Homo sapiens: one gene and its partners. The gene in region 6 interacts genetically with the main gene of each other region. Each region holds a gene or a part of one and is shown on either strand. Other genes may lie near its edges.

Evidence for each region.
Region 1: changes in FASN (region 6) and LINS1 together harm fitness less than expected from each alone (positive genetic interaction), as found in Homo sapiens cells (one large-scale study listed by BioGRID).
Region 2: changes in FASN (region 6) and RLF together harm fitness more than expected from each alone (negative genetic interaction), as found in Homo sapiens cells (one large-scale study listed by BioGRID).
Region 3: changes in FASN (region 6) and ESRRG together harm fitness less than expected from each alone (positive genetic interaction), as found in Homo sapiens cells (one large-scale study listed by BioGRID).
Region 4: changes in FASN (region 6) and EDC4 together harm fitness more than expected from each alone (negative genetic interaction), as found in Homo sapiens cells (one large-scale study listed by BioGRID).
Region 5: changes in FASN (region 6) and MAML2 together harm fitness more than expected from each alone (negative genetic interaction), as found in Homo sapiens cells (one large-scale study listed by BioGRID).
Region 7: changes in FASN (region 6) and ALG6 together harm fitness more than expected from each alone (negative genetic interaction), as found in Homo sapiens cells (one large-scale study listed by BioGRID).

Annotation. Positions count from the first base shown.
Region 1 is NC_000015.10:100,568,805-100,571,184, forward strand, and holds part of LINS1 (protein Lines homolog 1), read right to left. Parts: intron 1,857-2,380; exon of another isoform or gene 1,647-1,856; intron 1,314-1,646; coding exon 434-1,313; 3' UTR 1-433.
Region 2 is NC_000001.11:40,202,887-40,206,386, reverse strand, and holds part of RLF (zinc finger protein Rlf), read right to left. Parts: intron 1-3,500. UniProt on the Homo sapiens protein: May be involved in transcriptional regulation.
Region 3 is NC_000001.11:216,674,930-216,678,429, forward strand, and holds part of ESRRG (estrogen-related receptor gamma), read right to left. Parts: intron 2,563-3,500; coding exon 2,147-2,562; intron 1-2,146. UniProt on the Homo sapiens protein: Orphan receptor that acts as a transcription activator in the absence of bound ligand. Binds specifically to an estrogen response element and activates reporter genes controlled by estrogen response elements.
Region 4 is NC_000016.10:67,879,552-67,883,051, reverse strand, and holds part of EDC4 (enhancer of mRNA-decapping protein 4), read right to left. Parts: intron 3,466-3,500; coding exon 3,278-3,465; intron 3,203-3,277; coding exon 3,081-3,202; intron 2,990-3,080; coding exon 2,836-2,989; intron 2,496-2,835; coding exon 2,062-2,495; intron 1,977-2,061; coding exon 1,872-1,976; intron 1,788-1,871; coding exon 1,635-1,787; intron 1,556-1,634; coding exon 1,519-1,555; intron 1,385-1,518; coding exon 1,207-1,384; coding exon of another isoform or gene 1,099-1,206; coding exon 943-1,098; intron 841-942; coding exon 725-840; intron 624-724; coding exon 458-623; intron 374-457; coding exon 187-373; intron 95-186; coding exon 1-94. UniProt on the Homo sapiens protein: In the process of mRNA degradation, seems to play a role in mRNA decapping. Component of a complex containing DCP2 and DCP1A which functions in decapping of ARE-containing mRNAs. Promotes complex formation between DCP1A and DCP2.
Region 5 is NC_000011.10:95,976,196-95,979,695, forward strand, and holds the end of MAML2 (mastermind-like protein 2), read right to left. Parts: coding exon 2,753-3,500; 3' UTR 403-2,752; downstream 1-402. UniProt on the Homo sapiens protein: Acts as a transcriptional coactivator for NOTCH proteins. Has been shown to amplify NOTCH-induced transcription of HES1. Potentiates activation by NOTCH3 and NOTCH4 more efficiently than MAML1 or MAML3.
Region 6 is NC_000017.11:82,081,237-82,084,736, forward strand, and holds part of FASN (fatty acid synthase), read right to left. Parts: intron 3,481-3,500; coding exon 3,277-3,480; intron 3,149-3,276; coding exon 2,998-3,148; intron 2,918-2,997; coding exon 2,739-2,917; intron 2,656-2,738; coding exon 2,536-2,655; intron 2,404-2,535; coding exon 2,281-2,403; intron 2,190-2,280; coding exon 1,966-2,189; intron 1,880-1,965; coding exon 1,678-1,879; intron 1,443-1,677; coding exon 1,291-1,442; intron 1,179-1,290; coding exon 1,087-1,178; intron 925-1,086; coding exon 773-924; intron 608-772; coding exon 365-607; intron 117-364; coding exon 1-116. UniProt on the Homo sapiens protein: Fatty acid synthetase is a multifunctional enzyme that catalyzes the de novo biosynthesis of long-chain saturated fatty acids starting from acetyl-CoA and malonyl-CoA in the presence of NADPH.
Region 7 is NC_000001.11:63,426,627-63,430,126, reverse strand, and holds part of ALG6 (dolichyl pyrophosphate Man9GlcNAc2 alpha-1,3-glucosyltransferase), read right to left. Parts: intron 1,395-3,500; coding exon 1,326-1,394; intron 1,200-1,325; coding exon 1,001-1,199; intron 1-1,000.

The DNA of each region.
Region 1 (2,380 bases), on a different chromosome or scaffold from region 6:
CCAATAAGGCAAAAAGTAAGAACTTGTCTAGAAAACCCAGCCGGGCACAGTGGCTCATGCCTGTAATCCCAGCACTTCGGGAGGGCGGACAGGCGGATCACTTGAGGTCAGGAGTTTGAGACCAGCCTGGCAACATGGTGAAACCCCCGTCTCTACTAAAAATACAAAAATTAGCTGGGCGTGGTGGCGGGCACCTGTAATTCCAGCTACTCGGGAGACTGAGGCAGGAGAATTGCTTGAACCCAGGAGGTGGAGGTTGCAGTGAGTCGAGTCACGCCACTGCACTCCGGCCTGAGCGACAGAATGAGATTCTGTCTCAAAAAAAAAAAAAAAAAAGAAAACCCTTTTATGGTGATGATTTTATACTATTACCTCATTGAGACATAATTTATATTAAGGAAAAACAATACCTGGAAAATAAAATGTCAATGTTTTACAAAGTGTTCATAGTTTTATTACTTATCACCTCTATGTATTTTAACAACTTCAAAAGTGCAGTTGGATTATATGGGAAAAGATTTTTCTTTTGCAAACGGCAGATGGCATCTTGTAGTTCCTGGAAGCATTTTACTATTCTGTAAAATATTCCCACTTCAGAGACGACATCATTTGGGGCTACTTCACAATCAAAGGAGAAGGCAGTATCAAATTCTTTCAGAACCAGAGGCCTTGATGGAGGCTCAAGGCTAAATTCTTTTTTATCCCTGCTTGTCCCAGCTGCATCCTGAATCTCCTTAGTTGCTTGCTGGTGTAAAGATGTCTGTTTACTGTTAGCTAAACACTGCTCTGTGGATTCCACGTCAGAATCGTCAGAGCTGTCGTAATCTACCAGACTTTGAGAGGCCCGGGGGGAAGACAGACTAGAAGCACACATGGTGTGAGCCCCCTTGGACATCACAGCTTTCAGTGGTTCAGAGGGAGCATCGGAAGCCCAGGAGTGCCGAGCACACACATCTCTGTGACTATGAGGAGCAGTCAAACGATGGGGTATTGTTTGGTTGGAGCTTTGGTCTTGGACAAGTGAGGGGACACAGCCACAAATACTTATGTCATATTTAGATTCAGTTGCATCAAAGTTATTGCAAATGGTGAAAAAATTATCCCAGTCCTTTTGCAGTAATTTTAAATATCTAACAAAATATTCAAGAAAACAGGTTTCTGATGAAATCAAAAAGTCAAGAAGAACTGTGGAATCAAATCCTATATTTTTCAAGAAGAACAAGAAAATACAGTGAGGATTATAGCCATTTTCATGTGTGTGATGGTCCCACATTTCTTTTCCCTGAGTCAAGCTTTCAGTGGCTTCACATCCTCTGAAAATGAAGATAATGGAGAATGCAGATTAATGACCTTACAAAAATAAACAGTTTTACCAGATATAATTCACATACCATAAATTAACCTATTAGATTACTTTTAAATCTATGCATCACTTCTTAAAAGAAAAAATTTCAAAACCCATTCCCTTCCCCATAAGCTCTAAAGAAATCTGACTCAGTAAAGCAAAATCCACTGACTTTGGCAGTTCTAGTTTTTGTCTGCCCAATAAAAGTTACCTGTTGTTCTTTCTCTCGACATCAGAACTCCTCATTCTTATAGGTAACCAATTCCATGTGGTAAGATAATTCCTAAACCTCCTTCCTTACCCTCAACAAGGGTGGGCATGTGACCCAGATTGACCAATCAGAGCACTCCATGCTCCTGGCCACAATGACTGGTTCTGACAAGGCTCTGTGACCCAAGTGGGTTAATCAGGTCTCCCCTGGGACTTTTGCTGGAGCTATGGAAGATTATAACTGTAAGGCTGAGGTACGCCTTGAACTGCCGGTGGCCATGCCTTGAGAATGAATTCAAAACTGTGAGACAGAGAAAAATTGAGAAGTGATTGATGACATGATTGATTATAGTCCCTGTACATATAGTTATACCTGACTCCAACTTGACCCTTTAGAATTCCCAGTTATGAGCCAATAAATGCTGGCTTTTGCTCAAATTAGAGTTGGTTTCTATCATTTACAACCAAAAAAATCTTAACAAATACAACTACATCTGAAAAAAACTATCTATGTTGTAAGCACATGCCTCTCTGGACACACTGAACTGGATTCAGAAAGTGAGAAATTCACACACAAAGTCAGTTTCATTCAGGGGTTTCCACTTCCTGAGGAGTAAGGAGCTAACTTTGAGTACAATTAAGATACACTCTTACAGGCGTGTGCATTTTCAGACTGAACTTGTATTTGACCATTTTGAACCTAATTCAAATCACATGCAGGAATTTTGTGTTCTTGATTAGGACCTTTTGAAAATTGGCCCCAAACACTCAAGAGTCTAAGAGCAGCCATTGCCAGCAGTGTCATAATACAAGTAAGTACTGGCG
Region 2 (3,500 bases), on a different chromosome or scaffold from region 6:
ATTACTGGTAGTACACCAAACTCAGGTTTGAATCCCAGCTTAACCACTTTAGCTTTGTAACCTTGAAGCACACAACCTAATCTGAGCCTGACTTTCCTCATCAATAAAATGGAGCTACCTCAGAGCTATTGTGCTGATTAAATGTAGCAAAGTATATAAAGCATTTAGCATGGTGCCAAACACATAGTGAGGACTAAAAAAAACCCTCATAAAAGCAAAGTCCAAATATCAGGAATATCAAGAGCTTAGTTACGGACATGTTAAATCTGTAAGTAGAGATGGTAATTAGGCAATTGGATATGGGTCTGGAGTTTGGAGGAGGGAACAGGGCTGGAGAGAAAACTTTTGGGAGTCAGACCATAGTTGGTATTTAAAGCCAAAGATGAAGGAAATAAGCCTAGTTAAGTGTAAAAAGAGAAGACCCAATGACAGAGTCATTGGGTACTGCAACATGTACTCATCAGACAGCAAAGTAGAACTGAGAAAGGAGTAATCAATGAGGTAGACAGAAAACTGAAAGTCATCATTAGATTTAGTGATATGGTATACTGCCAGGGGCAAAGGTCATATTAGAATGTCTTGAAAGAAGAAAAATGGGCCAGGCACCGTGGCTCACGCCTGTAATCCCAGCACTTTGGGAAACAGAGGCGAGCGGATCACGAGGTCAGGAGATGGAGACCATCTTGGCTGACACGGTGAAACCCCGTCTCTACTAAAAATACAAAAAAAATTAGCCGGGCATGGTGGCGGGCGCCTGTAGTCCCAGCTACTCGGGAGGCTGAGGCAGGAGAATGGCGTGAACCTGGGAGGCGGAGCTTGCAGCGAGCCAAGATCGTGCCACTGCACTCCAGCCTGGGTGACAGTGCGAGACTCTGTCCCAAAAAAAAAAAAAAAAAAAAAAGAAGGAAGGAAAATGTTCGATAGTAAATTAAGACAATTTGTTAAAGAAATTATGCTTAAAAAGCCAGAAGGAAATGGGGCAGTAGCTAAAAGTAGAAACAGGATCTAAAGCAGCGTTATTTTTATTTTATTTTATTTTTTTGAAGACAGAGTCTCGTTCTGTTGTTCTGTTGCCCAGGCTGGAGTGCAGTGGCGTGATCTCAGCTTACTGCAGCCTCTGCCTCCTGGGCTCAAGCAATTCCCGGGCTCAAGCAATTCTTGTGCCTCGGCCTCCCTAAGTGCTGGGATTACAGGCATGAGCCACCACCTCTGGACCTAAGAAGAGCTCTTTTTTAAGGACAGAATAAATAATAGCATAAATGCCAATGGGGTGGTTATAACAGAGACAGGGAAATCGATGATGTAATAGAGAAAAGGAGAACTGCTGTAGCATTATCCTTAAGGGAGACAACATCAATTGAAATACAGAAGTGAGGGAGGCTGGCCTTAGCTAGGAGAACAGATATAATTTATCTCTAGTAACAGAAGAGAAGATGTACATTCATAGATGCTGGTAGATGAATAGATGTTTCAGAGACAGAGCTTATGAAAATTCTCTTATTTATCTTCTCAGCGCTTCAATTTTTTTCAGAGAAATAGGGAGTTAAGTTCAGCAACAGAGAGTGAAACAGGGCAGAAAGTATTACAGTATAGTTTTGAAGAATAAGAAAAAACTATGCAACTATCTAAGAGTGGGAGAATGAATGGGCTAAAGAAATATAGGCTGGGTGCAGTGAGTGGCTCACACCTGTAATCCCAGCACTTTGGGAGGCTGAGGTGGACGGATCATTTGACCCTGGGAGTTCGAGACCAGCCTGGGCAACATGGCAAGACCCTGTCTCTCCAAAAAAATAAAAAATAAATAAAAAATAAATTAATCGGGAATGGTGGCATGTTTCTGTGGTCCTAGCTACTCCAGGGGCTGAGGTGGGAAGATCACCTGAGCCCAGGATTTTGAGGCTGCAGTGAGCAGTGTGCGCCACCACACTCTAGCCTGGAGTAAAATTAGCTGGCAGATTTTTCTCCATGTAAATTTGGCCCCATGAGTGCAGGTAAACACATAGAGTAGGTGAAGATTTAGGGATAATCAGGATACTGGTAGTCAAACAAGTACAATTAAGAGAGAGACCAGTGGCCGGGAGCAGTGGCTCACGCCTGTAATCCCAGCACTTTGGGAGGCCGAGGCGTGTGGATCATGAGGTCAGGAGTTCAAGACCAGCCTGGCCAAGATGGTGAAACCCCATCTCTACAAAAATACAAAAAAATTAGCCAGGCGTGGTGGTGGGCGACTGTAATCCCAGCTACTCGGGAGGCTGAGGCAGGAGAATTGCTTGAACCCAGGAGCAAAGATCGCGCCACTACACTCTAGCCTGGGCAACAGAGCGAGACTCTGTCAAAAAAAAAAAAAAAAAAGAGAGAGGACCTCTCGCTCTTTGAGAGTGATAATGATGATCTGACAATGACAAAGCAGAGTTAAATAGGGAAGTGAATACATAAGGGGGATAAGGGAAAATGAAAAGGTGACAAGATCAATAGATCTTGATTGATCCTGGTGGAGACTGTATATTAAAGGGAGTAAGGTAGAAAGATAGACAATTGTATTTGGAGAGTAAGATATTACAAGTAAAAGTTTCAGAATTACTACAGCATAAAACCAGATCCTTGGGACTACTACATCTAATAAAAAATTTCAGTTCAGAGTAAGAATCCATATGTCAGAATTGAATGGCAGATAAGAGGATTAAAGGTAGATGATGAAATAAAGCTTAAGAATCTCTAGTTTTTTTCTGTATAATGTCAAAAACCATTAGAGAAGTCTAACTCCAAATTTAAGAAACATAATAATTGAGGTTTTTTTTTTTTAAAGGATGCAATCTGATACATAAAATAGTTGTTGTTTTTTTGAGATGGAGTCTCACTCTTGTCACCCAGGCTGGAGTGCAGTGGCACGATCTCGATGCACTGCAACCTCCACCTCCCGGGTTCAAGCGATTTTCCTGCCTCAGCCTCCTGAGTACCTGGGATTACAGGCGCCCACCACCATGCCTGGCTAATGTTTGTACTTTTAGTAGTACAAGCTGAAGCAGGTGGATCAGTTGAAGTCAGGAGTTCAAGACCAGCTTGGCCAACATGGTGAAACCCCGTCTCTACTAAAAAGTACAAAAAGTAGCCAGGCATGGTGGCGCATGCCTTTAGTCCCAGCTACTTGGGAGGCTGAGGCACAAGAATCACTTGAACCCGGGAGGCAGAGGCTGCAGTGAGCCGAAATTGCACCACTGCACTCCTGCCTGGGTGACAGAGCAAGACCTTGTCTCAAAAAAAAAAAAAAAAAAAAAAAGACTCAACCCTTATTTTCCATGATATCCAGTTTGGCCACTTAATTGTTCAGGATGTAGTCATGGAATCTAGAGTCCTATACTTTTCTGCTTACAAAATTAAATATATAAAGTAACTTAAGCTAAAATTAAGTGCCATTTTCTTTAGTTTATCCCTTGATGCCATGATTAACAACTTCTGCATTCCCCAAACATGGAGACGTCATTACTTTAAAAAGAAAAAAC
Region 3 (3,500 bases), on a different chromosome or scaffold from region 6:
GTGTTCTCATCAGCCACAGATCAAGGAAGTTATGTAACAGACAACAAAAAAGCAAGGGAGAGCCAGTACAAGTAAGGATTGTCACTAAAATATTCAGTGCAACTGATGAAGAAGAGTTGAATTTCCAGATGCTCTTAAAAGGGAAGGTGGGCCGGGCACGGTGGCTCATGCCTGTAATCCCAGCACTTTGGGAGGCTGAGGCGGGTGGATCACGTGAGGTCGGGAGTTCGAGACCAGCCTGGCCAATGTGGTGAAACCTTGTCTCTACTAAAAATACAAAATTAGAGAAGCGTGTTGGTGCATGCCTGTAATCCCAGCTACTTGGGAAGCTGAGGCAAGAGAATCACTTGAACCCAGGAGATGTAGGTTGCAGTGAGCCGAGATCATGCCATTGCCCTCTAGCCTGGGCCACAAGAGTAAAAATCTGCCTCAAAAAGAAAAAAAAAAGGGGGAGAAGGTGGGAGACTGCTCTATGTACACATAAAGGGTTTCAGAATCATGTTTTGTGAAAATATTTAAAAGGATTAGCACTTAACAAACATTACTTCTTTTGTACTTTGAAAACTAGTACGTCACAAAATTATGAAGGCTCCACATAAATTAGTTTCAGTTCTGTCCAGCAAGGGGCCATTAGATGATGATGGTCTATGGTCAGTGGTGAATCAGCAGTAGCATGGTCTAGAGCAGGGGGTCTAAATTTGAATTAGCATCAGGATTACCCAGAGGGTTGGTAAAATGCAGATTGCTAGGCCCACCCTCAGAGATTCTGTTTGAGTTAATACAGGATGGGGCCTGGGAACTTGCATTTCTTACATTTTCCCAGATGATGCTGGTACTGCTGGTACAGCCACTGCACTTTGAGAACTGTTGGCAAATAATACAACACAGTACAGTGCAGTGTTTCTTAACTTTGCCTTTACATTAAGCATCACCTAGGAAGCTTTCAAAAACCCCCCTTTCCCTGGCTGTACCCAAGACCAATTAATTCAGAATTTGGGGACATGAGCCCTGACATCAGCATGTTTTTTTAAGTCTTCCACTGATTCCAATGAGCTGGCAAGCTTGAGAACCACTGATATGTGGGAAGATAGACTTTGTGTCCATAACTGGTTGTTAGGAAGACACATTTTGTAAACCACTGAGCAGAACCATTGGTGTGCTGTGGATCCTCAAAATATATTTTTTTCTTCCCCTATTTTCTTCAAAAGTGAATTACAAGAGACCTAAAAACGTGAAATCTAATTTTTTTGCCAGAATATATATCTATAGCTTTTTCATGAACTGAATTCTAGATCTGTAGATTACCAGTTTAAAAGGGCATAAACAAATTTCAGTCCTATTTTTCTACACTGTATGGCGGAAATAATGTTATTTATAAATCTGAAATCTATGAAGTTTGGGGTATATATCACTTATATATGTTGGAGGTATATTTTATCATTCAATGCCATTTTATTGGTATAATTTGGAAGGTTTTTTTTAATATAAATTCATTTAAAAGTTAGAAAAAGTATATCCAACCATAAGGAAAAAAGAAAGATGAGTAGGTAATTAAATTTGTCTAGAGCAGTGATTCTTAAAATTGGTCCCTGGACCGGCAGCATCATCAGCATTACCTGAAAATTTGTTAAAAATATACAATCTCAGGCAGGCCCCCACCCCAGATCTAATGAATCAGAAATTCTGGAGGTAGGACCCAGGAATCTGCATTTTAACAAGATTTCCAGATGATTTTAATGCACACTCAAGTTTGGAAATCACTGGTCTAAAGTATTTATTATTTCCATGCATCTGTAAGAAGATCCAAAGGGGTCAAAAACACTGTTAGTCCAATGTGCATTTGTACAGTTGCTATATAGACCCACATTGCTCTAATAATAACTATGCTCTTGTAAACTCTACCCAAAGTTTATTATCCTTGCACCATTAAAGCTTAACAGTAAGAGGAAAATTAATAGATATGGAGTATATCTGGGGGGATTTTATTCTATAAATCTTCCACTATCAATTGTAATCTATTTCCATTTTCTACTCAAGAGAGAATTAAAACTATGATACTTGACTTATGAGAATAAGAATAAGGAAAAACAAAAACCCATCATGTGAGGTTGGAAGTGGGGAGAGTATTCCCAGGTCCGACACTAACCTTGAATTGTCCTCTTGAAGAATGCCTTGCAGGCTTCACATGATGCTACCCCATAGTGGTACCCAGAAGCGATGTCACCACACACTAAACACAGTCTCTTGGGCATCGAGTTGAGCATGTATTCACACTTGGTCTGGGGATCTTCAACAATGGTGCTGGAGCAGTCATCATACAGTTTCCTGACAGGCCCACTACCTCCCAGGATAGGAGCAGAAGGGTAGAGAGGTGGCGAGTCAAGTCCGTTCTGATGGCCATTCATGGTTGAACTGTAGCTCCCACTGGCGTCTGAAGAGCCACCAGGGCTGTGGTGGTTGACGCTGTCCGTCAGGGAGGCTGGGCTGGAAGGTTCCGTCTTGATGAAGGACGAACAGCTGGAATCAATGTGTCGATCTTTGTTTGACATTCTGCAGAGAAGCCTGAGATTGAGGAGATACAAAGAGAGACAGAAAGAGGAGAGAGTGTCAAGCACAGAGACCAAAAGAGGTAGAAACAAAAGAGATGGTGAAAAATAGAGAAAGGGAAAGGGAAAGGTAAAAGGAGGAAAAAAACAGAATTCATATGTTAAAGACATTGCTCTTTGAGAGAGTTTCCTAAGGGCTAGGGACTACACATCATTCATTCTCTAGTCAATACTTCTTGTTCTACAAGAAGGTAATCAGCATAAGGGCATGACAGGGTTACAACAAAGGGCCCAGACAGGCCATAAACAAAAGCTCTAAAGAGTCCGATTGCTTTTATTTTACCTTTCTCTTGGAGAACCAGTGTCAATATCTAACTCAACTCTAGATTCTAAATTTATCAATGGAAGAGGTGGTGATTTGCAAAGTCTATACCATTTCTAAAATTGTATTTATCCTCATTCTACCTTTCCTTCCTCATTCTGATGCTGCAATCATTTTATTATGAGCAGAATAAAACTTTTATTTTCAAGACTGAACAGATGATCCTCAGCTCTGTAATTACTGTTTGTCAGCACGCTTCCATAAGCATAACTGTGTCTTATTGATCTGACTAAAACACATAGGGAATATATCCTCAATCACTTTGTTTCTTTATTTAAATTGCTCTATTTCATAGCCATTTGGCAATATAGAAAGACATCAAGTATAAAATTCCAGCCAATATTTAAAGATTATTCCTAGAGCCTGCAAAACTTAGTGACTCATCACCAACATTCATTAATAAATACGTGCATGTGTTTCTTATGTGTGATTTGCCATTATTTAAGAGATGAATCAGTAAAAGCCATTTGAGCCTTCAGTATACCTGTAAGTCCACAAATCTGATATTATATGTATATTATCTGATACTATAAAATCTGATGTTATATTTACATTCAGTAAAGTAGAAATGT
Region 4 (3,500 bases), on a different chromosome or scaffold from region 6:
GCTGGAGGTGACGGCGGCCTGCTGCTCCTTGAGCGCCACACTCACCTCACCCTTAACGATGCGCTGTACCTGTGCTAAAATGGACTCCTGCAGGCTGCAAAGGGAAGTGAGTGAGGTGAAGTGGACAGGGAGCCTAGTCTGGCCTTTCTCAAGCCCACCACCTTGCCCAGTACTCTGCCCACACACCTGCCCACAGCCACATGCAGCTGGTGCTGCACCTCAGCACGAACACTGCCGGCCACGGTGGCTGCCATCTGCTCAGTGGCACTCTGCAGTGTGCTGACCAGGCCCCGCAGCTGGGCTAGCACAGGCTCCCTGGCCTCCTGTTCCCGTGCCTTCCGGCTCTTCATGTGGCTTTCTAGCTGCTGCAAGTCTGAGGGGTGACCACAGGGACTATAAGAGGAACAGTAGGAAAGAGGATAACCCCTCCCACCTTGGGCCATATGACCCCACTCACATTCCTGTGTCCCCAGCCGGAAGCTATCATTGATTTGCTGGAACATGGCCTGGCAGCTCTTCTCAAAGGCCGGCAGCACCACACTCTGGAAGGCTTCCCGGTAGGCAGCCTGCATCGGCCCTTGTAATGTGTCTGCAGCTGCTCGGGCGATGGCATCAGTCAAGTTCTGGGGTTAGAGGGAGGGGCCAAGTTGAAAGCCTGAGCCCAGCCTGGCCTGACTAGGCCCAGGAACCACCACCTCCACCCACATCTTGGGCCCTATAGCACCTTGGACTTGAGCAGCTTGGAGATGTTCTCTTTCATGCTGCCCTCCACAGCTGTGAGCTTGGTAGCCACTGAGTTGCTCAGTTGGCCTGCCATAGGCTCCAGACTCCTTGAGACACCTGGGAGAGGGGAAGAGGGTGAGGTGGAGCCATGAGAAGAAGCTTGACAGGTACCCCACTCCCACCTGAACCACCCAAAGGGAGTCTGCATGCAAAACTCACATGGAGGGACTGTCTTCTTGATCTCATCCCGTATGCTGCGCTCTAGCCGCCCAGCTACAGCTGACGACAGTGCTTGGGACAACTGTTGTGTCAGCTGCTCCTGCAGCTGCCCTCCCCGCTGCTGCCCCTCAGCCAGTGCTCGCTCCAGCCGCCGCTCTGCGCCATAGCTAAGGAACGGGCCTGGAGCAGGTCGTGTACTCCTTCCCAGGCCAAGAATGCTGCCCCCGTCCCTATGCCATGTTGTGCTACCAGTCTCAAGGATACGTTCCTGCTCGTGCCGAGTCTCAAGGGCACGTTCTACGTGGCCTGTGACTGTGCTCTGCAGGCCTTCGAGTTGGGTACACAGACGCTGCAGCAGCTCTTCCTGGCTGTGCCGCAGCTCTGCCAGCTCTCTCTGCTGTTGCCAAATTAGTGCTGGCCAGTCCTCAGGGGGCTCTGCCACCTGTCAGTAGCACTGACAGTCACACGATGCCTGCCCCACCTATTCCCACACACCAGACCAGGGAATGGCCCAGAGCCCTTCTCCACCCGCCCAGGGTGAAGTTCCACAAGTACAAAGTGGGCTCATTCACTTACCTGGTGCTCTGTGAGCCGGGATCCCATGGCTGCATCCCTGCCATAGGCGAGAAGCACCTCAGGCTATGTGAGGCAGCCTAGAGACCACCCTCTCCCTCCCTAGGATTTCTCCCTACCCATCATCCTTCTTGCTTTTCCTCTTGAGCTTGGGTGAGGTTCGAGGGGATCCCTTGGTCTTCCAGTCCTTGGCAGGCAGCCGTGGAGCAGGAACTTTGGTGCCAAAGCCTCCTGAAGCAGAGGCAAGGCTGGCCACCTCATCATCATGGTCACTGTGGGAAGGGGAAGGAGGAGTAAGCCCCTGCCCACTTGCTGCCCATCCCCCCATGAGGGCAATGGTGTAGAGTGGCTCCCACCTTTGCTCAGCACTGGCATCCTGGCTGTCACGTTGCTGCAGCAGGTGATATGGTGGTCGGTGGAAGGCCAGGCTCTTGTGCTTTTCCTGAAGGCCATTCCTGGGGCTGGGAGGACAGGCCAACTTAGCCATGGATGAATCTATCTGAAGCCCCTCCTGCTAGCACACTTTTCCCCTCCCAAGCTCCTCACCTTTCTGCCAGGGTGCTGCAGGTCTCACGAGTAATGTCAGGTGCTGTGGGCCAAACCTGACTGTCAGGAGTCGAGGCCTCCTGGGTCAAGGCTGCCTCCAGGAGGGAGGGGGTATTATGCCGATCTCCATCCCCAGGGCCTCCATCAAGCCCGAGCTGGGGGCCGAGCTCGGGCCCTGGCCGGGGCCGTGGGGACAGCAGGTGCAGTGCCGAGGCGGCTGAAGCCATACTGTCTGGCTCAAGGCCCTCTGGTGCAGAGGAGCCAAAACCACGGGACAGGGCCTCAGATGCAATCTCAGGGATGTCCTGGGACAGGGCAGTGGAAGCTGAGGAGATGACATCAGGGGAACGAGTGCGGCTAGGGGAGGCTTGGGGTAGCCCCAGGGGCTCCACTTCCTGCAGCTCCAGGGACAGTGCAGAGGTGGCAGTAGGCACCTGAGGTGGGCCAAAGATGGGGGCTTAAGTGACAGGAAGTGAGGCAGAGATGGGGGGCACAGAGACGAGGCATTAGTATTAGCAGTAATGAGAGACAGGGCAGCAGGGAAGTGGGGATACAGGTCAAAAACGAGGCCACAGCCAAGAAGAGGAGGTGGGGACAGGGAGGCTGAGGAGACACCCACCAGGAAACACAGGAGGGTGAAATGACCTCAGGGAAACACGGACCATGTCGGGTAGAGCAGGATCAGCAGCAGGGGGCTGGGAGGAGCCCACCACCCACCTTCCCTGCTGCTGCCCACCTGCTCCCCACACTTCACACACACACCCAGTCACACACCTGGCCCGGCCCCTTGGGAGTCAGTTTGTCAGCTGGGGCTGGGAGCAGGCCAGGCAGGAGGCCACGCGGGCTTGCCTGAAGGCTGCCACTGCTGCTCATTGTCAGGCTGCCATCCAGCTGCAGCTTGGGGCTCAAGGTCAGCTCCTCAGGTGGCCTGGTGGGGGAAGGCTGAGGTGTCAGCAGCCAGAGCTTGGCATCATCTGGTACCAGCCCCTGCCATCCTCCATCTCTGACCCTTGCCTCACCTGGTCAAGGAGGGGTCCACAGCTGAGGTGCTGCTCATGGCAGACACAGCTGTAAGGGAGCTGCTGCTACTGCTGCTGCTGCTGCTGCTACCGCTGCTGCTGCTGCTGGGAGAGGCAGTGATCTGGGGAGATGCAGGAAATAAGACCTGTGGCCTGTGGCTGAGGCATTCCCAGGTCCCCCTACCCTGGGAGAGTACCTGCTGCAAGGAGGCGCTAGGTGTCATGAAGGCGTCAGGTGTCATCAACTTGGGCTTGGTCTCACTGCTCAGACTGAGGAAGTCGGCAGGTGCAGGCAGCTCCACGATTCGTCGGAGGTCAGGCTGGGAGCCGTGAGCGGCTGACCCCAGGCCCTCAGAGCCCAGTTCGGGCCGAGACTCTCCAAATGCTGCAGGGCAAGTTGCCACTTGAGTTAGATCTCAG
Region 5 (3,500 bases), on a different chromosome or scaffold from region 6:
CATACTTGTTTTACAAGTTGAAATCTTTACCGTTATGGTACGTTTACAGTAATGCAGGTAACATTAGCGCATTCACTTAGAGCAGAGTTATTTATCTTCATAGGGCTTAATACAAAGCCAAGACCGAATTACTTGCTTAAACTGCTTTCTAGTCTTTGACTTAAAACAAAAAAGAAAAATTGCTTCTACCTCCTCTCTATGTCAGGATGATAAACAATGCCAACAATTAAGTGGTCTGGTATTTCTAAAAATGGCAGATTGTATTCCAATAGCTCTTAAGTTGTAAATCTTAAGGTTTTAGCTAAATATGTCTATCAAATTGTCATTATCTCTGCTTTCAGGAAAATTATGTCACCTTTGGTAATAGGCTGCTAACAAACAAACTACAGACTACACATCATGTTTTCCCAAAGAATCCTGTATTTTAATGAATAGCTGAATAAATAGACATTAATTATGAAATTCACATTAAGATAGAAGAAAATCCAAACATTCTGATTGCTTTATCTCTTAAATTTGATAACTACTACAAAACATACTATTTATGTTAGGGTAAAAATAAGCTGACTCACAGGAGTGTAACTGGGAAGTGCTGGCAGATATATACAGTAACATGGAGGAGCCATACAACAAAAGCGTTTATATGTACATCATTTTTTTTCTTTTTGTATGGAGAAATGCTGCCTTATAAAATCGGAAAACACACAGTAGACTACATGCAACAAGGACCAATACAATGTGCACAGCAGAAGAATCAAATAAGACACAAGAACTATGGGTTTAAAAAAGAATTTGGGAGCAGGACAAAAAACAAGGATTGAAACCTGGAATGCTTTCTTATTGAGGTTTCAGAATATAAATTTGTCTAACAAGCCTCTTGATAGTTTTCAAAAGTTCCCACTCAACCACCTATGGTTTAAGTGTAGAGCTAAAAATAAACCATCATATTATACAAAACTTTGCATATTAGCATACAAAAGGTAGCAATTTACTTTTTGTATAAAATATAACCTTTTGATAGTATATTTATTTCACATATGTATAAATATAACCCAAAGAATATGTTTGAAGTATTTCTACCAAAATATTCTTTACAAAAGTTTACAAAACAAGTAATTTATTTATATTTACAAACTAGCACAGGGAAGATTCTGGGCCAGTGATGTTGGTATTGTAAAGAAGGAGAGTGCTTCCAGACATTTTAAAGACTGGGAGACAGCTTTGCAGAATTTTCAAAGTGTGTTCTTTTTCTTTGAACAGATATTGAAAGACTTGATTATTAAATAACTTCAGCTAAATTACATTTGATATTTGAATATGTGAGCATAGAACTGAAAGGGCTGAAGATAACCTTTGCTCCTCTGTAATTAGGAAAATGATAGTGATATTTTGCATTCATTCCAAATCAGCACACGTCTTCCCCATTTTACAGCTGATCTGGATGTGGACACTAAGGTTAAATGACTCAACAAAAACTCTTTAATACAGTGCTCAGCCCTGAGGGACAAAACCTGGATATGAAGAGTCCATCTAGCATGTGGCAATGATTCATCACATCAGGGACAAAAGAACAAACAGAATGCTCCTAACAGACCACATTCCATTTTGTTGCTCACCCAAATCCAAATAATACGTCCAATGAAGGACAAATTGTTTTCCCTCTTGATTATGCGTTCCTTCAAACTCCGTGAAATACATTTGTACACACTGGTACTTGCCATCCCTGGTTCTTATCTCCAACCAAAACATGATATTTTCTAATCTCGGTTTTCTTCTCCAAACTTCCTTTTCTTATAAACCAGCCTCAGTCATCAAAATGAGTAGGGAGGACGAGGTTCAATTTCACTCAGCTTGGGAACAAACCAGCAGGCATCAATCATAATAAGCAACATCCCAGGTTATTTGTAGCCAAATAAATCTTATTTATAGCAATGTCCACTGGGTTTTTTAAAAAAGTGAAATCTAATGCAGAGAGGTGTGCACCAATATTTCAGTATGATTAGGACAAGTCTTTGTTATATCTAAAATTTCATTTGGAATGGATTCAGATATTCGTTGTGGAAGCCAAAATCAAATTGCACAGCTCTATATTTTTGTTTAATCACTAGACACAGCATCCCACTGAAGTAGAGGATTGTGGGAAAATTGTAAAAGTGAGGAGTGAATATGGGGAAGAAATTCTGTAATCCACTGGATGTTTTCTAGGTTCTCTGGCTTTTTCTTAATTTGCATACTGTTTGGTTACTCCAAACAAACCTATAACATTTCAATCTATCCTGCAAGCTTCAGGAAAATTAAATGAAAAGACACAATGGAAAGATTAAACCATACCTATCTATTAGAGCAAATTAAGGAGTTTGTTGCTTGGAACTAGTACCTCCTCATGACATGGGGTTTAAATAAACTACAAGTTCTATTACCTTTTTTATTTTCCAGGGAAAAAGAAACTTGGGAAGGCTATTTTACACAATTAATTACACATTGACACCACAGTTCTGTTTGGATAAATTGGATACTGTATCCTGGAGTTTAGACAGGGAAAAGTGATCCCAATATTTTACTTTCAGGTGTAAGATTTAAAACAAGAATTTGGACCAAAATGTTCATCACTGCAGTTACTTTCTGCTTTCCATTTTTAAGCATGTTATCTTCATGTAGTCCACCTGAACATCAACAGTTCAGCCTCTACAGAGTTTCTGTAATATACTGCCTTTTAGTGCTTGGAGTTTGTAAATTGTCTTCCCTTTCTTCTTTAGGAATTGTTCCCCAAGATTTCATCAAGATTGATGTCTTTCATCCAGTCATCATTACCAGGCTCTGTCTTCAATAAAGAATCAATGAAATCAGCATCACTGTTTAGGGCAGGGCCCATGTTATCATTTTGTTGGCTGAGGAAGTCAAAAGCTAAGTCACTGCTGTGGTCAGTTCCTTGAAAAGCCCTGGAACTTTGGTTGGGTGAAGGAAAATTGCTGGGCGTCAGGGATGGTGGCTGGTTGATGCCCGTCCTCGACTGATTCAACCCTGTTCCTGACTGATTCAAATTAGGCAAAATCTGTGTGCTTAGCTGATTGGGTCTGAGATTCAGACCCCTGAGGGGACCCATGGTTTGCCCATTTAGTGTTTGGCTCATTTGGTTCATGGGTCTCATTTGCACTGCTGGTGTTAACTGGTTAGGAGGAGCCACTGCCCTCTGGGAAAATTGCTGGCTACCTACTGCCTGTTGCAGTGACTGATTTGGGGTATAGGCTGCAGGTGTACCTGTGGGGAAGCGGACTCCTGCAGACGTCAGGGCTTCTTGCTGTTTGCTTGTTCCTTCTTGAGAGGCCCAGTTTGGTGCAGTTGTGTTGGATGTGATCATTACGTTTGATGTTCTCTGTGGTGGCATGCTTGCCATACTATGGGTTAAATTTGGTCTCAATTGTTGTGAATTACCAACAGATCCAGCTCCAAAAGTGGCTACATTGTTATTATTACTTGGCCCTAAGGTAGGTGGCCGTGGC
Region 6 (3,500 bases):
CAGCACCAGGTTGAGCTCACGCTCCAGCGTCTGGCGCACCTCCACGCTCATGAGCGAGTCCAGGCCCAGGTCCGCCAGTGAGCTGTCCAGGTTGACAGCAGCCAAGTCGCGGATGCCTGGAAGGGATGCGCCGGGTCGGCAACTCCAGAGGGGGCATGGGGACGGCCTGTATGCGGCAGGGCTGACACCCAGGGGTGCGTGGGCTGTGCATCTCCCAAAGCACCACCACCACAGTGACACCTGCGCCCGCACCCTGGCTCTGCAGATGGGGAAACTGAGGCGCACAGGGGCACGACTGCTATGTCCCAAGACCCTGATGCCAGCAGGGGAAACACCTGGCGCGGCTCCTACTGGGAGTGCTCACCCAGGATGTGTGCCACGGCCTCCACCAGGTCCCGCTGGCTGTCCCTGTCCCTATAGGCCGCAGCCTTCTCAGCCAGCACAAAGCTGCTCAGGACCATGTGGGGCTGGTTCAGGAAGAGGTCCAGCACCTCCAGGCAGGACGCCATGCGCTGGGGCAGCGTGCCACTGACGATCGTGTCGTTGGTGCTCATCGTCTCCACCAAAATGCCCACGTCGCCGATGGCGCCCCACTGCACGGCCAGGCCTGTGGGGGAGGGGGCAGGTGGGCAGAGCTGCGGGGAGGTCGGGGTGGGGAGTGGCCACTGGGAGAGGGTGGGGTGGGCAGGGCTGCGGGGAGAAGGTGGGGGTGGGGAGTGGCCACTGGGAGAGGGCAGGGTGGGCAGGGTCGAGGGGAGAGGGTGGGGCCCACCTGGGAGGCCTTCGTGCCGGCGTTTCTCACAGATACGCTCCATGGCGGAATTGGCAAAGCCGTAGTTGCTCTGTCCCGCATTGCCACGCCCGCAGCTCACAGAGGAGAAGACCACAAAGTAGTCCAGCTCAGGGCACGCCTCTCGGGTCACCCTGTGGGCACGCGTGTCACTCCCCATTGGCCAGCATCCCCAGGAGCCCCCAACGTCCCATCCCCAGGAAACGCCAGAGAGGGCTGTCAACAAACCACCTTGGCTCCCACGGCCCTGAGCCCAGAGCCCGGCAGAGGCGGGAGCAGGGCTGTGCGGTACCCACCTGTCCAGGTTCAGGGTGCCGCTGTACTTGGGCTTGCAGACGTCCTGGAAGAACTCTGGGGTCTGGTTCTCCAGCAAGCCATCTCTCAAGACCTGGGGGAGGCATCCTCAGCACTCCCTGCAGCTCCAGGGCCTCACCCGTCCACCCAGGGTCCCCCCCTTGGTCTTGGGGCTTTTGAGGGCCCCATTTGGGGCCTTCCCTCACCACGGCCAGGTTGAAGACGCCGCCCACGGGCCCAAGCTGCGCCGCCTCGGCAATGAGGCCCCGGGCCCCCTCCAGTGAGCTGATGTTGCTGGTGGACACCTGCACCTGTACGCCCTGGCGCCTCCACCGGCGGACCTGCTTGGCCTGGTAGCCTGCGGGACACAGGACTGTGGGCTGGACTGGGCCAGGGTACGGTCTCTTCCCTACACGCCGGGCTGGGGAAGTGGGGAGCAGCCGCAGAGCCCCATCCAGCAAGCCCCCCACAAGATGGAGGGGGACAGACCCCAGGCACCGTGACAGCCCACAATGGTGGGCTGCAGAGAAGGGCTCAGGGGCCCGGGGCTGTGCCTGGCCCAGGCTGGTCCACAAGCACCCCTGCCGACTCACCTGTCCGGATCCCGGAGCGAGAAGTCAACACGAGCTTCTGCACCCCACGCTGTATCAGCCACTGCGCCAACTCCAGGCCGAAGCCACCCAGACCACCAGCGATGATGTAGCTCTTGTGGGCCGGGCAGAAGGTCTTGGAGATGGCCGACATCAGCTTGGGTTTGGCCCCCTTCAGCACTGCCTCCGGCTCCTCCGCAAGCACCTGCGTCCAAGCAGCACCCACCGGCTCAGGCACTGCCTGGGGACCAGAGCCTGGGGTGCCCGAGGCGCCGGGACTCCTCCCCTCACCTGCACGACGACTTTGCCAATGTGCTTCCCTTGGGCCATGTAGCGGAAGGCGTCCTCCACCTGGGCCCCATGGAACACCGTGCACTTGAGGGGCCGTACCACCCCATCCCGGATGCCGGCCTGCACAAGCGCCCACACCTCCCGCCAGTCAGCACTGCTCTCGTTGAAGAACGCATCCAGTAGGACCCCGTGGAATGTCACGTTCTTCAGGAAGATAGCCATGCCTGCGGGCAGGGGCCGTGCTCACCCAGGGCCTTCCACAGGTCCACCCACACCCATCCATGCCCACCCCCGCCCAGGCGCTGCCGGCCTCACCGAGCGGGTGGTTCTGAGAAAGGTCGAATTTGCCAATTTCCAGGAAGCGACCGTGCGTAGCCAAGCACCTCACGCTGGCCTGCAGCTTCTCTTCCGCCAAGGAGTTCAAGACCAGGTCAACGCCTAGGGGGCCAGAGGGGCCAGACAATCACACCCACTGCAAGCCCAGCCACCACAGTCCAGAGGGCCAGACCCTGCTTCTCCCTGGGCCGGAGGCTAGGCAGGAGGCAGGTGGGGGCTGTGGGGGCCACTCACCCTTCCCGCCCGTGTGCCACAGCACATGCTGCTCGAAGGATGTGTCCCGGGAGTTGGCGAAGCTGGTGCTGTCGAGCTGGGGGAACCTGGCCTGGAGGTACGCCCGCTTCTCAGCCGACCCTGGTGAAGAGAGGAAGCGCGGCTGGTGAGCCAGGGCGGCGGGGCCAGGAGGGCAGCGGGAGGCACCGGGGGCGGGGCCTTACCCACGGTGGTGAAGACGCGGCAGCCCAGACTGAGGGCGATGGCGATGGCGGCCTGGCCCACGCCGCCCGAGCCCGAGTGGATGAGCAGCGTCTCCCCGGGGCGCACCCGCCCACGCACCACCAGCGCGTAGTAGGCCGTGCTGTAGACGACAGGCACCGAGGCCGCCTCCTCCAGCGTCCTGGGGATGCAGCAGGTGGGTCAGCACAGGCCTGGCCGCCATCCACGTGGGGCCCAGGCTCACACCCTCGACACACTCACCAGTTGGAAGGCACATCCCAGAGGAAGTCCGGTGACAGCAGGACAGAGGTGGCCAGGCCCTTGGCAGGCACCAGTCCCATCACACGCTTGCCGCTGGCGTCTCGGCCCGAGAACTCCATACCTAGCAGGCTGTCCTGGGAGGTCCACTTCCCTGGGGGAGACGGCACTGAGCCCCTCACCGCCTGCCCTTCCCTCCCGAGGGGCTCCCAGGCAGGTCCTAGCTGCTGGGGTCTCTGCTCCCCGGCCCAGTCCACTCCCACGGCCCCATGCCACCCATACCTGGGATGGCATCAGGGGACAGCTTGCCAGTGGCCAGCATGATGTCGCGGAAGTTGAGGGAGGCGTAGTAGACCGTGCAGAGCTGGGCGCCAGGGCAGGTGGGCTGGGCATGGCGCAGCGAGGAGCAGACCCAGCGGATGGAGGACAGGTCCCCCCGGGTGAGGGTGCTCACAAAGGCATGTGCCGTCGGCTCCTCAGGCTTGTCTAGGGAAACAGGGAGGTGG
Region 7 (3,500 bases), on a different chromosome or scaffold from region 6:
GGCAGATCATGAGGTCAGGAGTTCAAGAACAGCTTGGCCGACATACTGAAATCCCATCTCTACTAAAAATACAAAATTTAGCTGGGCATGGTGGCGCATGCCTGTAGTTCCAGCTACTAGGGAGGCTGAGGCAGGAGAATTGCTTGAATCCAGGAGGCAGAGGTTGCAGTGAGACAAGATCATGCCACTGCACTCTAGCCTGAGTGACAGAGCAAGACTCTGTCTCAAAAAAATAAATAAATACACACACACACACACACACACACACACACACACTAAGTGAAAGAACCGAGTCATAAAGACCACAATTTTATTATCCCATGTTATGGACTGAATTAAAATTCATATGTTGAAGCCCTAACCCCCAATGTGACTGTTATTTGGAGATATAGCCTTTTAGGAGGTAAATAAGGTTAAATTAGATGATAAGAATGGGGCCCTAATCCAGTAGTACTGGTGTCCTTACAAGAAAAGGAAGAGACAACAGAGGTCTCTCTCCATGTGTGACACATAAAGCAGAGACCTTCTACAAGCCAGGAAGAGAGGCCTCACCAGAAACCAACCCTGATGGTAGAACCTTGATCTTGATCTTGAACTTTTAGTCTCTAGAACTGTAAGAAAATAAATTTCTGTTGTATTTTGTTATGGCAGCTATCACAGACTAATACATTCCATTTATATGCAATGTCCAAAGTAGGCAAATCTAAAGAGGCAGAAACTGGCTGTCCAAGGAAGGGAGTTAGGAGTGAGAATAGAATTGGGAATGAATGCTAATGGGTACAGAATTTCTTCTGGGAGTGACAAAATAATGTAAAATTAGATGATGGTGATAGTTGTGCAAATCTGTTTACATACTTAAAACCACTAAGTTGTATACTTTAAATGAGTGGATTTATGTGAATTATATCTCAAAAAGGTATAAAAGAAAATCACTACTTCAATAATTTTTTAAAATAGTGACATGCTGAAAAATGTGTCATTTCTTAAAAATTGAACTTACCAAATATTGTATAATTCTGGAAAGAAATGTAAAACATGGAAGATATTTCCTCACAGAAATGGAAAAGGATTTCAACTGCAGTTCTTCTTCAGAAGTCTTTTCAAATATTGAAAAGGAAGTTACACAAGCTATAAAAAATGCCATTGTTGTCACAACAGAGGGCATTAGGAGTTCATCCTTCAATAGAAGAGGTAGCATACTGTAAAGGAAAATTTTTAAAAATCACAAGAGAATTATCAATTCAAACCATAACCACTTCATAAAAAAGTTTTAAATTAGTTTACAAGAATTATACTGAAAATATATGGAAATTGATATGACTTACCTAAATGTTGACACAAGTAAAAACCAAGTAGACATAAAAGGAATTTCACTTAAAACTAAGCAGACTGGTCTAAAATCGTAAAGAAAAAAATATTTTAATATTACAGAATATAACTTCAACTCCTAATTGTAAAAAATATAAATACATTTTATCTGTCTGATTTTCAGCGGTAGCTTAAAAACAGCCAGGAAGGTCTTCATATGGACTACTGATTCATTTTGTTAACAGTCCAGACTAAATTAGCCTAGACACAGGCACAGAGGTGTCAACTCCTCATAATAATTGGAAAACTGCTGCTTCCAGTATGCCGTTAATGGAACTTTTTTTCTCTATCATACAAACAAGTAGCTTAAGAAAAGGATCAGATAAACAAATCTGAGAAGGCTTTGTCACATATTTCGTAGTACTTGGTAAATATGAATTCCCAGTATTGTTTTCAAACATCTCTTTTATGTTCTTTCATGTTACATATTACTCCGCTAAGTTAAAACTAAAGATATGGCAGACAACATCATCATGCCACTGGAGAGGACAAGAGAGACAAGAGGATAAAGGAAAACAAATTGATAATAATAAAATTAAAAGGAGGAAGAAATTAGTAGGAAGAGCTACATAAAAAGGGAAATAGTATAGGAACAGGAAGCACAATGCCAATAAACAGAACCACTGGCTTTATCAAAGAATTGTTTAGGGGCCAGGCACAGTGGCTCAGGCCTGTAATCCCAGTACTTTGGTAGGCCAAGGCTGGTAGATCACTTGAGGTCAGGAGTTCGAGACCAGCCTGGCCAACATGGTGAAACCCCATCGCTACTAAAAATACAAAAAAAATTAGCTGGGCTTGGTGGTGCGTGCCTGTAATCCCAGCTACTTGGGAGGCTGAAGCAGGAGAACTGCTTGAACCCGGGAGGAGGAGGTTGCAGTGAGCTGAGATCACACCACTGCACTCCAGCCTGGGCAACAGAGTGAGATGACAGGGCGAGACTCCATCTCCAAAAAAAAAAAAAAAAAAAAAAAGTTGTTTAGGGTCATAGCTCTAAGCCCTGTAACCTCCTTACCACAACTCCTGCTCCAGTACCTTTGGGATTCAATTGTGGCAATGCTCAAAGAAGGAGCATTGCTAGTGTGAAGCCCTGAGTCCTGGTCCCCATGTTTGCCCTTTATTTACTGTGTGACCTTGAGCAAATGATTAATCTATTTTCTTAAGTGGAAATGGAAATAATAATAATACCCTGTATTCTTAAATAGTTGAAAGAACTCTTTGCAGGTATCATCTAGTGTTTACTTTTTTAAAATACAATAAACTTTCCTAATGATGGTGGTTGTTGAATAATTGTTATCATTATTTTGAATCTCTTTATTTTAAAAAGTGCTCTATAAAGATTTGGGCATTCTCCCCCTTTCCCAGAAGGATGACTTTTTCCTATGTCAACTAATATATGAGATTTAAACCCTGGGATTATAAACTGAAAACTACTAAAAGAAATTACTAGGCCGGGCGCAGTGGCTCACACCTGTAATCGCAGCACTTTGGGAGGCTGAGACAGGCGGATCACGAGGTCAGGAGTTCAAGACCATCCTGGCCAACATGGTGAAACCCCGTCTCTACTAAAAATACAAAAAAAAAAAAAAAAAAATTAGCTGGACACGGTGGTGCGTGCCTGTAATCCCAGCTACTCAGGAGGCTGAGGCAGGAGAATTGCTTGAACCAGGGAGTCGGAGGTTGCAGTGAGCCGAGATCGTGCCACTGCACTCCAGCCTGGTGACAGAGCAAGACTCCATCTCAAAGAAAGAAATTACTAGAGGACTTTCCATTTCACTGCTTGAGAATGGACGCATATTAATAGCAAGCTCATTGAAGGTGCTCAATAAATACTGTTTTCTCTTTCTGGTTTAATTCTTTCCCATTTATGCATTCAATATTTATTTACCAAACACAAGCATTGACAAAAAATGTATTACAGCCGGCGCAGGGGCTCACAACTGTAATCCTGGCACTTTTGGAGGCCAAGGTGGGAGGATCACTTGAGCCCAGGAATTCAAGACCAGCCTAGAGAATATAGCAAGACACCACCTCCACAAAAAATTTACAAATTAGCCTGGCATGGTGACGCACGCCTGGGGTACTTGTTACTTGGGAGGCTGAAGTGGGAGGCTCACTTGAGCCCAGGAGTCCGA